Regions from separate parts of the Homo sapiens genome. Here region 2 is linked to region 1. The links come from fine-mapping of genetic effects on gene expression. Tissue or cell type: esophagus muscle. Region 1 holds a variant in brackets; the other region holds the start of a gene. All regions are shown on one strand. Distances are from middle to middle.

Region 1 (8,104 bases):
CAGGAGTTGATGGTGTGTGCCTGTCATTCCAGTTATTCGGGAGGCTGAGGTGGGAGGATTGCTTGAGCCCGGGAGGCGGTGAACAACGATCATGTCATTGCCCTCCAGCCTGGGTGACAGAGTGAGACTCTCTCTCTCAAAAAAAAAAAAAATAAGTTAAAAAATAAATAAAAAATTTAAAATAAAGTTTTAAAAGGACTTTAAAGGAGAAAAATTTTTCAGGCTCATGCCCAGCAGGAACAAAAAGCACGCATCTAGGATGTGCATGGCCTTCTGAACTTACGGCTGGTTCCCAAGTGGTAGTGGCCCCGTTGGTGGCTGACTTCAAAAATACAAGTTTGATTTTTTTTTTAGACATGTTTGGAGAGTTTACTTTTTATTTATTTATTGTTTTTTTTGAGACGGAGTCTTGCTTTTTTTTTTTTTTTTTTTAGAGACGGAGTCTGCACTCACCCAGACCGGAGTGCAGTGATGTGATCTCGGCTCACTGCAACCTCTGCCTCCTGGGTTCAAGCAGTTCTCCTGCCTCAGCCTCCCAAGTAGCTGGGATTACAGGCACTTGCCACCACGCCCAGCTAATTTTTTTGGTTGCGCCATGTTGGCCAGGCTGGTCTTGAACTCCGGACCTCAGGTGATCCACCCACCTCGGCCTCCCAAAGTGCTGGCATTACGTGTGTTAGCCACTGCACACAGCCTGGAGGGTTTATTTTGTTGGTTTTGTTTTGTTTTTTTGTTTTCAGGGAAAATTTGTATTTTTGATATTTGGTGCAGGAGAAGTGTGATACTTTTCTGAATGGTTAGAACTTTAATCAGATAAACTATATGGATAAATAGCAAAGATTGTTAAGACTGCCTCTCTCTTCTGTATCTTACCAAGGCTGGACAGTCTTGTGAAATTGAGACTCTTACTCCACTCATCCATCGCTGCAATAAGCTCATCCTAGTAGGAGATCCTAAGCAGCTCCCTCCGACAGTCATCTCTATGGTAAGTTTTTTATGTTCAGATTGCTTTAAAATGGAAGGGGCTTTTTAAAATTTTTGTTTTCAGGAGGGAGAGACATCTTTCTTGGATTGGCCTCTTAATTTGGAGGGAAAAGTAAGCAGTAACTAAGAAAAGAGAAGCACTTAATAAATTTTAAAAAATGCCTAAAAATGTCCATTTGGTCATAGTTGTTCTTCTGTGTATGTGTGGCAGAAGCAGTGTGGCAGGGACTTGGAAGCCTAGATGGATGACGTGCCATGGAAACCAAGCTTTGGGAAAGGCAGTGTGCATGTCTGCCTTTTTTAAGTCTCTTAAGAGCTGAATCTGATTTATTTTAATCATACAAACACCAAAACAATAATAAAAGAAAAACTTCAGAAATAAAGAGAAGAATCCTACCCTCCTCATTTTTGTTTAAATATGTACAAATTGAGGAAAACATGAAGTTAAATTAATTTTGGAGTACATTTCCATTTTTAGAATTTGGTATTCTAGTGTTAATACAAGAACATGTCTGTGCCCTTCACATCATCTGAAAGTGAAGGTACAGGGGAAAAAAAGACTCAATTACAAGCTCTGACTTTGGGAAGAGAAGAACCAGACTGTAGTCTACTCTTCTCTGTTGGTTTTTTTTAATCTCATGAAAGATTCTCCTGGAAATGCACATTAGAATCAGGATCCAGTAGATGTTTTGAAGTAATCTGAAGAGGTTTTGAAATTTAATGAAATGTGTATTTTTTACTAATAACATAGATTATTTATACAGATAATTGAGCAGTGGCTTCATAAATAATCCTAGAGAACAGATCATTTTCAAAGCATTTTTGTTGAAGCTTGGAATGAATGCAGGTGGTTATCGTTAGTGGTTTTTGATTTCGGAATTATTCAGAATGATAGTGCAGTTCTTTGTATGACATTTGAGCGCAGGTACATGATCATGTTAGAGTGTGGCCCAGAAGCACACCCGTCACCCAGTGAAAACCCGTGTGTGTAGGGAAGAACTGCTGCAGGTAACTTTGTTCACGGAGAATAATGAAGAGCAAATTCTGTATCCCATTTCTTTAAATGATGCAGGATTTCATTGAAGGGCCTTGGCATATAGTGAAAAGAGAGATTGTTAATGGGCCTCAACTTTACTGCCTACTTCAATGATTGATAAAAACAACAAAAATTAGAAAAAAAAAATCCATTTGTGCTGTTTAAATTGTTGTACAAATAAAACAGGCTATTTTGAGAAAATAATTACAAAGTTCATTTCCATAAGGTGCCTTTTTTGACCACCTGTTTCTAGTGGTAATTACAGTGAAAGTGAGTATTTTTAACAGATATTGCTAGGCATTTGTGTGTTTATTCGTCTTTTTCAGTATGTATATATTGAGTGCCACCATAATTCAGGCACTGTTTAGGGGCTGGGGTTATGACAGTGAAGAAAACAGACAAAATCCCTGCCCTTATGGTGTTTGTATTCTAGGGGTTAACAGTGAGTCAGTTACTAAAAAGTGGTATATGGTTTGTATACATGTATATGTTTATGTGTATATGTACGTGGGTTTGGTTTTGTTTAAAGGTGGCAAAATCATTCTGTGCAGAATTGGTTTTTTTTTCAATCAGTAAATCAGGGACATCCTCCCATGTCAGAATATATATTAATAAATCTATGTCATTTGTAGAATGGACTAAGGTTTTGTCTGGAGGTAGATGCGTTACCTTACATAACTTCCTTTTCTGTTTCCCCAAAGAAAAGATTAAAAATTAGGTTTTGTGAGCTAACGCAGATAAACTTTTGAGGATTTAGGGAAAATTGGCATGTATCTATTAATAATTATTTTATGCTTTCACAAACCTGTTTAAAATCACACATATAAATAGGTTAAGAAGTAATGCCTTTCTTCCACTCCCATAGTTTGTGAAACAAGTTTATTCAGGCTTTGCACGTCTTCAGTGCCAGTATCTTTCACATCACTCATGAAGATTCCATCATCTTAGTGAAGTTTTCAGCACATTTTTACTTCAGGGTTATTTAAGATAAAGTACTTTTTGAAACTTTTCTTTTTTA[A/G]TTATACTTTAAGTTCTAGGGTACATGTTCACAACATGCAGGTTTGTTACATATGTATACATGTGCCATGTTGGTGTGCTGCACCCATTAACTCGTCATTTACATTAGGTGTATCTCCTAATGCTATCCCTCCCCCTCCCCTTTTTGAAACTTTCTGTGTTGCTGCCATCGGAAAGTAGATCCCAAGGCACAACTGTGGTAACATCAAGACAGTTTATCCCACTTGTCACTTAGGTCACTGTTTTTCAGATTGCAGAATATAACCCATTATTTGGTTTGTGAAATCCATTTAGCACAGCTTCGGCGTTCCTAATTCAAAAATTTGAAATGCTTCACCATCTGAAACTTCCCAAGTGCTGACTTTATGCTTAAAGTTCACGCTCGAAGGATATGCTCATTGGAGTATTTTGGATTTTTGGATTAGGGATGGTCAACACATAAGTCGAGTCTGTTTCCTTCACTGGAAATTAAGTCCTGTGAGACTTCATCTTATTCACTCTAGTGGTCTTAGCACTTCAAATTATAGATGCTTAGTACATATTAGATGGATGAATGAAGAATTTTGTCTTCAAAAGGCTTGTTTACAGTGGCATTCAATATGTCTGTCTGTGAGGGTGTACCCCCAGAAATAATTGTTAAAATCTGTGTTACATTTCCTTTATTACTGGTTTTTTTGGGTGGCGTCTTGTAGCATCAAAATAGCATCAGTTGTCTTTCACAAGATCATATCTCTTTCATTAGCAGTATATGAGTAGAAAAGACCTCCACATATATTCAAGATTCATGGCATTTTGGCCAGGTGTGGTGGCTCATTCCTGTTATCCCAGCTACTCAGGAGGCCAGAGACATGAGAATCGCTTGAACCTGGGAGGTGAAGGATGCAGTGAGCTGAGATCACGCCACTGCACTCCAGCCTGGGTGACAGAGCGAGACTGTGTCTCCAAAAAAAAAAAAAAAAAAAAAAAAAAAAAAAAAAGATTCATGGCATTTTGAGGCTCAGAGTCAGAAACACCTTTTTTCTCTGAAGCTGTGGTTGGTAATCTTATGCTACCTGAACGTTGCCATATACGTATTAGATCTCAGTAATTGTGTTTATAATAGTGGGAAAGATATAAATGAATTCTTGGAAACTGTTGCTTTATTTTGCCCCTCACAGAAAGCACAGGAGTATGGCTACGACCAGTCAATGATGGCTCGCTTCTGCAGACTGCTGGAAGAGAATGTAGAACACAACATGATCAGCAGGCTGCCCATTCTACAGCTCACTGTTCAGTACAGGATGCATCCAGACATATGCCTCTTCCCTTCTAATTATGTTTATAACAGAAACTTAAAAACAAATAGGTGAGTTCCCCTTATTGTTTGTGACCTTATTTTGTTGTAGTTTAGCTACTTATGAAGAATAGACATTTTACTGTCGTCTTAGGTCTTGTCATAAAAAGCATAAATCATGAAGGGTTAATAATTTTGTCCTGTTATAATAGCCATCATGTTGAATACAGCAAAGCACATAAAAAAGAAAAGGGGAAAAAGTCACCTATATTTATACTACCCAGAAATAATCACTGGTAACATTTTGGTATATCCACTTTCAGCAGTCCTTTTTTTTTTTTTTTTTTTTTTTGAAGACAGGGTCTCATTCTGTCACTCACACAGGATGAGTGCAGTGGCACACAGTCCTGGCTCACTGCAGCTTCGACCTCCCAGGCTCAATCAATCCACCTGCCTCAGCCTCCTGAGTAGCTGGGACTACACTCAGTCACCACCATGCCTGGCTAATTTTTGTATTTTTCTTTTTGTAGAAACGGGGTTTCGCTATGTTGCCCAGGCTGCTTTCGAACTCCTGAGCTCAAGCAATCCACCCGCCTTGGTCTCCCAAAGTGCTGGGATTACAGGCGAGAGTCACCGCACCTGGCCAAGTTTCAGTCCTTTTACTATGCATATCTTTTTTTACTTTTTAAATTTTTGAAGGAAAAATGTGGGACCATACTTAACATAGTATTCTGTGGCTTACTCTATTATGAGTGTCTTTCCAATCATACTTGTTATATTTTAATGATATAGACACCTCTCCCAGCACCAGGAAAGAAATAGAATTTGTTTTGTACCTTTCACTAATACACGTCTAGAAAAGAATATTCCTGCTATCCCCTTACTTGCCCCAGCCCACATCACCACACAGAAAAAATTGTAGTAATACCAAGATATTTTCTTAAATCTTGACTTTATTCTGAATGTTGACTGCTTTTTTTTTTTTACAGACAGACAGAAGCCATTCGATGTTCATCAGATTGGCCATTTCAGCCATACCTTGTGTTTGATGTTGGAGATGGTTCAGAAAGACGGGATAATGAGTATGTTTTCCTCTTGCCTCAGTCCTCTGATAGTCCCAGAATTGTTACATGATTTGCATTCATATTTCTGTTAAATACATTTCCTATACACATCTCTCTGCCTAGTGTCAGGGCACAGTCATGTTCACTTAAGTTGATGCTTCTTTTTTCTGTATAATGGGGATAATATTACCTAATGTCATAAGCAAGTGCTTGAGTAGATACTTGTTGAGCTCACAGCAGTGAGGGAAACAGACGTGCCCATTGCAAGATGGTGGTCTCATGGGAAGACAGGCCTTCAGCAGGTCATCACCTGGGTAAGCAGTTATTCCAGTTGGGTTAAGTACTGTGAAGGCTAAGTATAAATTCAGTTGAATGAAAATGTGAAAGGGAGGAAGGAAGTAGTGACAGAGGTTGGATGGTATTGGGTTGTGAATAAGGGCATGTGTTCAGGTGGTCTGTATATGACAGCAAAGAGGAGTGGTGTTGCTAGAAGCAGCAATGTCAGAGGAGCTGGGGATTCTTGTGAGAGAGTAGGGGAGGAATGGTCTAGGGGCAGCATTTGTTGGCACGGATACAAGTGCCACTCTGTCATGAAGTAGGAGGAAACACAAATCCCACTTCTACATCATGGGATGGCTGCAGAGCAGGTGGCGTCCTCAGGCGAGAATCAGGCGTTAGATAAGATACAGAGGTGGAAGTAGGGAACACTCATTGAAGAGGTTACACATACAGAGGAGTTGTTGGCCATGGGATTGTAGTGCTGGAGGGACTGCAGCCTAAAGGTTTTAATGAGGCCTCTTGGAGGAGAGCAGAGGATTGCGAGTTAAGCCGCAGAGCATCATGAGGATTTCAGGGATGGAAGAGATCGCTAGCTGATTGGGTTGTCCATTTAGTAAGTCTCAAAGTTAGGAGAATGGGTATTTAAGGCTCGTAAAGCAAGGCGGGTAAGGTAGCCTCAGGAATCAAGGGATGGGGCAGTGCATCCCCTGGTCTTGGTGCATTTTGGGTCCGGTATGGTCATGAGGGAGCATGTGTTTTCAGGAGGGGTTGAGAGTGCAGGATATGAGGCTGCTGAGGACTACAAAGAGGACATGAACCTGCTCCAGGGCCCCATGTTGTTCAACTGGGGTCAAGTGGGACACATCCTTCACATTGAGTCTGTGTGGATGGCAGCTGCTCGGTTGTGTGGTGTGTGTTGTATGCAGCCAGTGGTGAGGGACAAGGAAGATCATACATGTAAAGCATTTTCTCAGTGTTCGGAAGATAGTTAATCCTTAATTCATGTTAGCTATCTCTTATTCACATCTTTGTTCTTATTAATACTGCTGTTCTTAATACTGCTCTCCCTGTTTCAACAGATGAAGAAAGTGGTGCCTAAACTTCAGTTGATTTCAAACTCTTTTCTCTCTACAACTTCATTTTTCACTGGGCATTTCACATGTATTCATATTTACCATAGTATTTTCACATTTATTCATATATACCATATTAATGGTCATTGTAACAGCCTCTTGGAGTCACTGCTAGCTGAATAAAAGATGAAGCCTATCTGCCTGCCCTTTACTATAATGGGAAACAAACTCAGTGGAACTTAAGTTAGCAATTAGCCTGCTATTAGTTTTGATAACACTGTGTTTTCTTTTTCCATCTTGTTTAGCTCATATATAAATGTTCAAGAAATAAAACTGGTGATGGAAATAATTAAGCTTATTAAAGACAAAAGAAAGGATGTTAGTTTTCGAAACATTGGCATAATAACTCATTACAAGGCCCAGAAGACGATGATTCAGAAGGATTTGGACAAAGAGTTCGATAGAAAAGGGTGAGGCATTTTTATAAATATTTCCAATTTTCTTGTTGAATTAGAATGAGAGGATATAGAAGGAAAGAAGAAAAGGGAAACTCTTAAGGAGTGGTCTGTGCAAATTGGTGATACGGCACGAGGAAGCTGGGATGCTGCTGGCTTTCATAGACTTGTGCTGTGTGGCTCCTGGGTAGACAGGTTACTTCCTGGCAGTTGGAATGTCAACATTCTCCTTGGCAGTGGAATTGACTAAGAAACTTGCCAGGTCTTTACCTTTTAGTTCCATGACTTGTTCATCTGAATTCTTGTTCTAGCAAGACTAAAAGTAACATTTCACTTTAAATAAATGATTTAACCCTTGTATTGCCTTTATGTATAGAATGAAAATCATGTTTTTGTTTCCTTCTTACCTCAGCAGTAAAATTAAAGATTAAATATTGGAGATCCATAACCTTAAAATCATCTTAACTTAGAAGCACACAGACTACCAAAATCGAATCTAGAAAACAATAGAAAATCAGACCTGTAGGCTGGGTGTGGTGGCTCACACCTGTAATCCCAGCACTTTGGGAGGCTGAGGCGGGCAGATCACCTGAGGTCAGGAGGTTGAGACCAGCCTGGGCAACATGGTGAAACCCCATCTCTACTGAAAAAAAATACAAAAATTAGCCAGGCGTGGTGGCGCGCTCCCGTAGTCCCTGCTACTCGGAAGGCTGAGGTAGGTAAATCGCTTGAACCCAGGAGGCGGAGGCTGCAGTGAGCTGAGATTGCCCCACTGCATCACTCCAGCCTGGGTGACAGAGCGAGACTCCATCTCAAAAAAAAAAAAAAAAGAAAAAATCAGACCTTTATAACAAATAATGAAACATTTCCCAATAATGAAAAGCCCAGAACCAAGCTAAGCTGGTGAATTCTATCAAATATTA
Region 2 (8,104 bases), 76 kb before region 1:
GTAATAATCTACCCACTCATTCCAGTTCAGGATCGCGGATGGCCAGAATCTTTCCTGGTGCCAGGTGGGTGCCAACTCTGGACAAGATGCCATCCCTTTGCAGGGTATACACTCACACACACACCCATGCTCACTCAGGCTAGGACAATGTAGACATGCCAATCAACCTAACTGGCACATCTTTGGAATCGGGAAGGAAATTGGAGTACCTGGAGGAAACCCACACAGACATGGGGAGAAGGGGCAAACTCCACACACAAAGTGGCCTCGGGGCCAGGCACGGTGGCTCACACCTGTAATCCCAGCACTTTGGGAGGCTGAGGCAGGCGGATCACGAGGTCAGGAGTTCAAGACCAGCCTGGGCAACATGCTGAAACTCCGTGTCTACTAAAAATACAAAAATTAGCTGGGCGTGGTGGTGCGTGCCTATAATCCCAGCTACTCAGGAGGCTGAGGCAGGAGAATTGCTTGAACCGAAACCTGGGAGGCGGAGCTTGCAGTGAGCCAAGATCGCATCACTGCACTCCAGAGCCTGGGCTACAGAGGGAGATTCCGTCTCAAAAAAAAGCCTTGAGCAGGAATGGATTTTTTTTTTCTCATCAATGTTATAACAAAACCACATTGAACAAAATGATCTTATTAGAGAACCTGCTATACTTAATATTGTTAAGGTGTCAATTGATTCCCCAGATGTATCTAAAAATACAATTCAATCCCTATAAAAATTCCAACTGCTTGTACTTATTTATTTGCAGAAACGGGACAAGCCAATTCTAAATATTCACATGGAATAGCAAGGGACCTTAAGTAGCTAAAACAATTTTGAAAAAGAACGATACTGGAGGCCTCATACTTCCCAGTCTTTTTATTTATTTATTTATTTATTTATTTATTTATTTATTTATTTATTTATTTATTTTTGGAGATGAGGTCTCACTCTGTCGCCTCGCCTCTCGGGTTCAAGCCATTCTCCTGTCTCAGCCTCCCAAGTAGCTGGAACTACGGGCATGCACCACTAAGCCTGGCTAATTTTTGTATTTTTAGTAGAGACCGGGTTTCACCATGTTGGCTAGGCTGGTCTTGAACTCCTGACCTCAGGTGATCTGCCCACCTCAGCTTCCCAAAGTGCTGGGATTACAGGCCTGAGCCATTGCGCCTGGCCATGTTTATGGTTTTATCAGCTTTAGAAGTTTGTAATTTGTACTTATTTATTCATTCCAAATAAGTATTAATTTTCATTTCTAATTTTATATTTACAAAGTCTATTGCAGTGCTTCTGTTTAACATTCTATAGGTTGTGTAAGTTTTGGGCTCAACAATTCCTGAATGCACCTTGAATCAATGAGTCTCAGGACATAACATTGAGTGTAAAAAGCAATTTGCAGAAAAATACATCCTCCATAATTCCATATACAGAGTTAAAAAGCATGTAAAATTTATATGTTGTTCACAGACAAAAAATGTGGGAAGATGATAAGGCCTACAGAGGGCTTCAGGGACAGGAGGAAATTATGACTTTTGTGGGCTCTGGGCACAAGTTACCTTCATGGCACTTTTCTCCATTAAAAAAAATGATAAAAATTATATTTTATGGCCGGGTGCGGTGGCTCAAGCCTGTAATCCCAGCACTTTGGGAGGCAGAGGCGGGCGGATCACGAGGTCAGGAGATCGAGACCATCCTGGCTAACACGGTGAAACCCTGTCTCTACTAAAAATACAAAAAATTAGCCAGGCGTGGTGGCACGTGGCTGTAGTCCCAGCTACTCGGGAGGCTGAGACAGGAGAATGGCGTGAACCCGGGAGGCGGAGCTTGCAGTGAGCCGAGATGGCGCCCCTGCACTCCAGCCTGGGCGACAGAGCGAGACTCGTCTCAAAAAAAAAAAAAAATTATATTTTATGACTGTGGTGGTATAAAGGCTGTGTTGGTATATTAGTGTTATATGATAAAACAAAATATGTTCAAAATATTTGACAGGATGAAGAAGTAGAAAAGAGGAAAATAACGGTCAACGCGTGCTGCTCCTTAGACGGTTAAATTTGCATAACGGCCACCACGCCCTTCCAACAAGCCACGCCCCCTTGCTAGAATCTTCCTTCGCCTTGGGCCTTTCCCGCAGTGTTCCCCTGGGCTTGCTCCTCATCCTCGGGCCAGGGTTCTCCTCGGTAAGGCTGTATCTGACCCACTTTTCCCAAGCTGGCCCATCTCAGCCTCTTTTTTTATCGCCTGAGTCACCACTACTAATTGTTTAATTTCCCTGTCTCCTCTATTAACTGTAAGACGGTGACGCTGCATCATCGTGGTCAGTAGTAGGCGTTACTAAAAGGGGGTAGGGGCCGGGTGCGGTGGATCACGCTTGTAATCCCAGCACTTTGGGAGGTCGAGGCGGGGCGGATCACTTGAGGTTGGAGTTTGAGACCATCCTGGCCAACATGGTGAAACCCCATCTCTACTAAAAACATGAACATTAGCCGGGCGTGTGGCACACGCCTGTACTCCCAGCTACTCGGGAGGCTGATGCAGGAGAATCATTTGAACCCAGGAGGCGGAGGTTGCAGTGAGCCGAGACTGCGCCACTGCACTTCAGCTTGGGTGACAGAGCGCGACTCCATCTCAAAAACAAAAAAGGGGGGGGATAGGCTTTCCAGTGGATTTTACTCATTTTTATTTATTTATAGACTTTTCTGAGACAGGGTCTTGCTTTGTTCCCCAGCCTGGAGTGTAGTGGCACAGTCACGGCTCACTGCAGTCTCGATCTCCCGGTCTCAATGGATATCCACCCCCTGCCTCAGCCTCCCAACAAGCTGGGCCCACAGGTGCTAATTTTTTTTTTTTTTTTTTTTTTTCCGGAGAGAGAGTCTCGCTCCTTTGCCCAGGCTGGAGTGCAGTGGTGCGATCTCGGCTCACTGCAACCTCTGCCTCCCGGGTTCAAGCCATTCTCATGCCTCAGCCTCCTGAGTAGCTGGGATTACAGGCACCCGCCACCACGCCCAGGTAATCTTTTTATTTTTAGTAGAGACGGAGTTTCACCATGTTGGTCAGGCTGGTCTCGAACTCCTGACCTCAGGTGATCCACCCGCCTCGGCCTCCCAAAGTGCTGGGATTACAGGCGTGAGCCACCGCGCCCGGCCTCGGTGGCTGAGTTTTAATTTTTTTTTGTACATACGGGTGTCTCGCTATGTTGCACAGGCTGGTCTCTGAACTCCGGGCTCAAGCGAGCCTCCCGCCTGGGCCTCCCAAAGTGGTGGGATTAGAAGCGGGAGCCACCGCACCAGCGAGGGATTTACTCTGCTGTGTTGCGCATCGCGCGCATTGTTCGCAAGACCTAAGGTCTCCCTTTCTTGTAATATAAAGGATATACACATATTCCTCCGAAATTACACGTTTATGTAATTTACATTTCAGGTCTTTAAAGGAAATCTAAAGAGAAAAATTACTTCGTCACCGTAGTACATCCGCTGAGACACCTGAGGCGTGGAAAAAAGAAGAAAAAAGAGGGAACGGAAATGGCCAGCGGGTAAGGGCTGACCCCACCCGCAGCAGAGCTCATCCCGGAGCCGCCCCACCCGCAGGAAGCCCCGGGCGGGGCCGAGGTCAAGGTTCCGCGGCAAACTCTCCCCGTCCACCCTGACGGGGACTCGGGATTGGTCGGGCCCCAGCTGCCCGGACGTGACGCCAGCGCCCGGCGTGGGCGGTGCACCGCGGCCGCTCTTCCCATGCCCCGCCCCCTGGGGGGCACCAAAACCAGAAAGCAGCGGCCGGGGCGGGGCCTGCGGCCGGCCGACTCAGCGCGGGGGCGGGGCCTACCTCGCGGCAACAGCTGGTTGGTAGCTGCGGCTGCGGGCCCGCACTTCCGCTGGTGGCCTAGAGCGGGGCCCGGTATGGAGGTGGGCTAGAGGCCGACGCCAGCCAGAGAGCGGTGAGGGTAGCGGCGGGCTGGAGGCCGTAGGTCGGGCGGGCGTGAGCGCAGGCGCGGCTTGTGCTTGCAGGGCCGCTTCGGGGAACCATCGCGGCGCCTAGGTCCCGGTGGGCGGATGGGGGAAGAGTCGGCGCGGGCTCGGCCGCTTCCCTCGGTGCGGGGGCGGGAGCACCCCTCGACGGCTGGCGGCCGCCTGTTGCCTTCCTGCGCGCTGGACCCGGCCGCTGCGACCCCCTGTCCTTCCGTTGTCTACACTGCGGTCTCGTGTGAGCTGTTTTTGGTGTGGATACTGCGTAGTTTCCTTGGGGCTGAGCGGGAGGTCTCGGGGTGGAAAGTGTCGGTTCCCTCCACACGCTCGTCTGCCTCTCGCCTGGAGTCCCTCCCTTTGTTTTTTTTTCTTTTTTCTTTTTTTTTTTTTTTTGAGACGGGGTCTCGCTCTGTCACCCAGGCTGAAGTGCAGTGGAACAGTCACGGCTCGCAGCAACCTCGTCTTCCTGGGCTCCAGCGATCCTTCCGCCTCATCCCCCCGAGTAACTGGGACCATAGGCGCGCGTCACCACGCCCGGCTAATTAAAAACAAAATGTGTTGCAGAGACAGGGCCTGGCTGTGTTTCCCAGGCTGAGCTCAGCTGCTCCAGGGATCCTCCGAGCCGCCGCGCCCGGCCGGTCCCTTCGTTTGGAGGAGAGTCTGTTTCTCCCACTTGGAGGGGCTGGAGCTTTTGCTGCTGGCCACAGGACTTTGTCCGTCCTCCCCAACTTCTGGGGATCTAAGGATGTGCCCAGCAATTTGCACGACCCAAGTGAAACGGGGGTGACTGCCTTGAGGGAAAAGAGCTCCACAAGGAGAAGGCCGAGTGTGGTATTTGATAAGTGACACAGCTGAGGATCCTAGGATTGATGTTACCTGCGCGGGCTAATAACTTGGGGGATTTTTGGCTCGGTGCCTAGCTGTCCCCGTGAGTGGGGACAGCCCCTTGTGGAACTGGGAGTCAGAATTGCAGTTCTGCTGTTTCCTGGAAGTCCACAGCCAAGTTGTCTAACCTATCTGGGCTTCCTCATCAGCCAGCAGTATCTGTCTGTAATAGGATCGATACCAGGCTCAGATGGGATATAGAGTATAAATGCCACTTACCAATTTCGTTTTTTGTTTTTTAATTTCAGAAATGTTCTTTTGGGGCCAGAGTCTGGGCATATATGAATGCAAATCCGTGTTTGTTCACAACTAAGCCCAGCTGAGACGATCACTTTTCTGTAGGCCATTTGTCCAGGTAATAATTTTTTTTTTTAGCAGGAGTTCAGAGCACCAAGGTAAGTGCAATGATGGAAACATGTGCAGAGTCCTAAAGGGACAGAGAAGAAGGTCATCAGAGATAGACTGGAAGAGAGGACGGGTCGGACAGGCCCCCCCCCCAGACGTGATGACACTCAGGAAGAGCTTGCACACTGGTTGTTCTCAAATCCAGCTTTCTCTTCGAATCTTAGTGGAGTTCTTTAAAAGGGAAACAATTTTATCCATAGGATCTTTTCTACTTTTTTTTTTAAGTTCCTGAGGTAAGTCTGATGTGTATTCACAGTTAAGTACCGGGCAGAGGTAGGAGGGTGGGTTTCCAAGGCCAGTGGAAGAGCTTCCATAAAGGCAGGGAATACCAGTCACCATGAATGGTTTTAGGAAGAGCAAGTCAAGGGAGGTAAGTGTGGAGGAAAGAGATGATGTGGAAGCTGGATCATCGCGGGCCTTGTGTGTGTTGAGCTCAGCAATTTGAATTTTATCCCAACATTGGAGGAGGAGTCATTTGTGCTTTCGAAGTCCAGTTTGGGGCTTTGGCCTCTGGCAGCATTTTGGAGGAGGAATTGATGGCGATCAAAGAAGAAATAGATCATTTAGGCTTCTTCAGTAATCCAGGCAAATGATGAAAATGTACTGAACTAAGGCAGTGGCGGTTGCACTGAGAAGAAAGTAGAGATGTAATTAAGGGGTAGGCTCTGGAGCTCAGAGATTGCGGCTGAGGGAGAAGGAGCGTATAGGATAATTCCTAGGTTACTGGTTTGAAAATTGAATGTATGGTAATGTCATCAACAAGGGAATATAGAACAAATAACAGATTTAAGGGAAGGACTTCGTTGGGTTCTGGTCATGTTTACTTTGAGGTGCCTGTCAGATATGTGAGTAGAGATACACTGTATGCAGTTGGATATTGAATATATCTGGAGTTCTAGGCTAGGCTGTCAGTTATTGAGTAGGTGGAACAGTGCATCATTTCACTCAACCTCCCCAGTAGCTGCGACTACAGGTGCATACCACCATGCCCAGCTAATTTTTATATTTTTAGTAGATACGGGGTTTCACCATGTTGGCCAGGATGGTCTTGATCTCTTGACCTCGTGATCCCTCACGCCTCGGCCTCCCAGAGTGCTGGAATTACAGGTGTGAGCCACTGCGCCCTGCCTGCATTAAGTTTTACAATACATTCTCAGTCTGGGCAGCTTCAATCTAGGCAGTAGTTGAAGCAGTGGTTTGAAGTAGGCCGCCCAGAAAGAGTACTGAATGAAGAGGTGAGAATTCTCAGGACAAGCCTTCGAAAACTTTAGCATTTATATGAGTAACAAAGGCAGGGGTAATTATGAAGGTGATTGGGTAGAAGTGGTGTCCAAAAAATGGTGTGTTGTAGGTAAGGAAAGGATGGGCAGCATTTTCATATGCTTTAGCAGAGTCAGGTCAGGAACCTATTGGATTGGTAATGTAAAGATTGTTAGGGACTTCACATTCAGTGGAGTGTAAGGGTAGAAGCCAGAGTGCAAAGGAGCTGAAGAGCTGGGAGGTAGTGAATCTAAACTTCCAGATGTTTAGCTGAGAAGTGTAGAAGAAAGAGATTGTTATTTGAAGTTTCTGGCTAGTTAATGTTGAGAAATGGATAGCCTAAGGATAAGTCTGTAGAAAATTACAGTAATACCTATGGTGAAGCATCCTATATTTTTGGTTTTGACACATTAGCTCTCTTTTTGGTGGGTGCTCAGAGAGTTGCTTTAATTTTGGTTTTGCAACTTGAGTATTGTCTGGACACACCCATTTGTCATTCACTAATGATTGCAAGCCGTTACAGTCTGATGAAACTAACAAAATAGACCTCAAGAAGAACTGAGTTGTATAAAAGCTTAAGAGGATTCACAGTAGTTTAGAAGCAATAATTTTCTCCTTAAAGACAAAATATGCCCTATTGAGGTTTCCTGGGCTTAGCCATTAGGCCAGTGATGATTTTAAATTTGAAGACAAAACCACACACACAGCCTTTTGAAGAAGAACCATGGAAGCACATGTTCTCTTGTTGGTGTGCTCTGCAGCAGTATTCTCCGTTATCTTCTAGCGGCCATGACACTCACCTATTTTGGTAGTAACTCCTATATATTTTGAGAAAATTTAGTCTTGCTTTTTTGGTTGTGGAAATAGGCTAGTTTTCTAAGTGAAATAAAAAGCAAATTCTGTAATTTTCTTAATAGAAGGTTTCTTTTGTTGTCTCCTTTGTTAGTACTTATTTTAAAGTACACAACATTTGGAGCTTCAAGTAAGGTAAGTGGGAAAAGAAGTATGCAACATTTTATTTGCATGGTAGTCTCACTTAAGTTTTTTAAAGCTTAAATTGGCTGCAGTCTGTTAGCTGCTGAAATCATGCTTCAAATGTTTGAGAAACCTCCATGAAGTTTCACTTTCTGTTCTTACGTCTTCTAAGTTCACTTTCCATATTAAACTAGGTTACCGGAAAAAAAAACAGCTTCTGCAAGCTGTTAACTTACTAGTAGTGTGATGTTGGCCTCTTAGGTATAAGTAATTCTTCTTTTGAATAAAATAATTTTAAATTCTGCAGAAATACATTGAAGACCTTATCCCATGTTACTTGGCATTTCCTAGTCTGCAGTGCCCTTGTACTAGAAGGCATTAATAAAATGTAATTGAGTTAGAGTTTGTGTCAGGAAAGGGCGGTACTCTGCGGCTATCACTGCATACTCTTTTTCCCCCCCACGTCGATGAGAACTGTGTAACTCATGTTATCCTTTTTCTCTGCTTTCAGGAAGCTCCTCATGTAGAACTTAGTGAAATTAAATTTCTTCTAAAGAAGTTTTGATTTTGTTTTTTGAAATCTCATTTTTAAATGTCCTTTTGTGTGTATGTACTTTAATGTTGAAAGCTACCC

What was found. PIP is the estimated chance that this variant, and not a neighbour inherited with it, causes the effect.
Region 2: it holds the start of SETX, and the variant in region 1 is fine-mapped to the expression of SETX in esophagus muscle (GTEx, PIP above 0.99). The same link has a PIP of 0.9 or more in gastroesophageal junction, sigmoid colon and tibial artery.

What each region holds. Positions count from the first base shown.
Region 1 is chr9:132,274,348-132,282,451 of GRCh38, reverse strand. SETX (senataxin) reads left to right here. Exons shown (of 26, transcript NM_015046.7): 20 at 878-985; 21 at 4,195-4,382; 22 at 5,300-5,392; 23 at 7,032-7,196. Among named protein-coding and RNA genes, the nearest start is that of SETX, 77 kb to the left of the region's middle. The variant A/G (reference allele first, on the strand shown) is at 3,039.
Region 2 is chr9:132,350,730-132,358,833 of GRCh38, reverse strand. It overlaps SETX (senataxin), which reads left to right and starts at 3,848. Exons shown (of 26, transcript NM_015046.7): 1 at 3,848-3,917; 2 at 5,079-5,185. RefSeq lists silencers at 3,549-3,938, 3,989-4,198 and enhancers at 3,583-4,082, 3,064-4,263, 4,083-4,584, 7,592-7,641.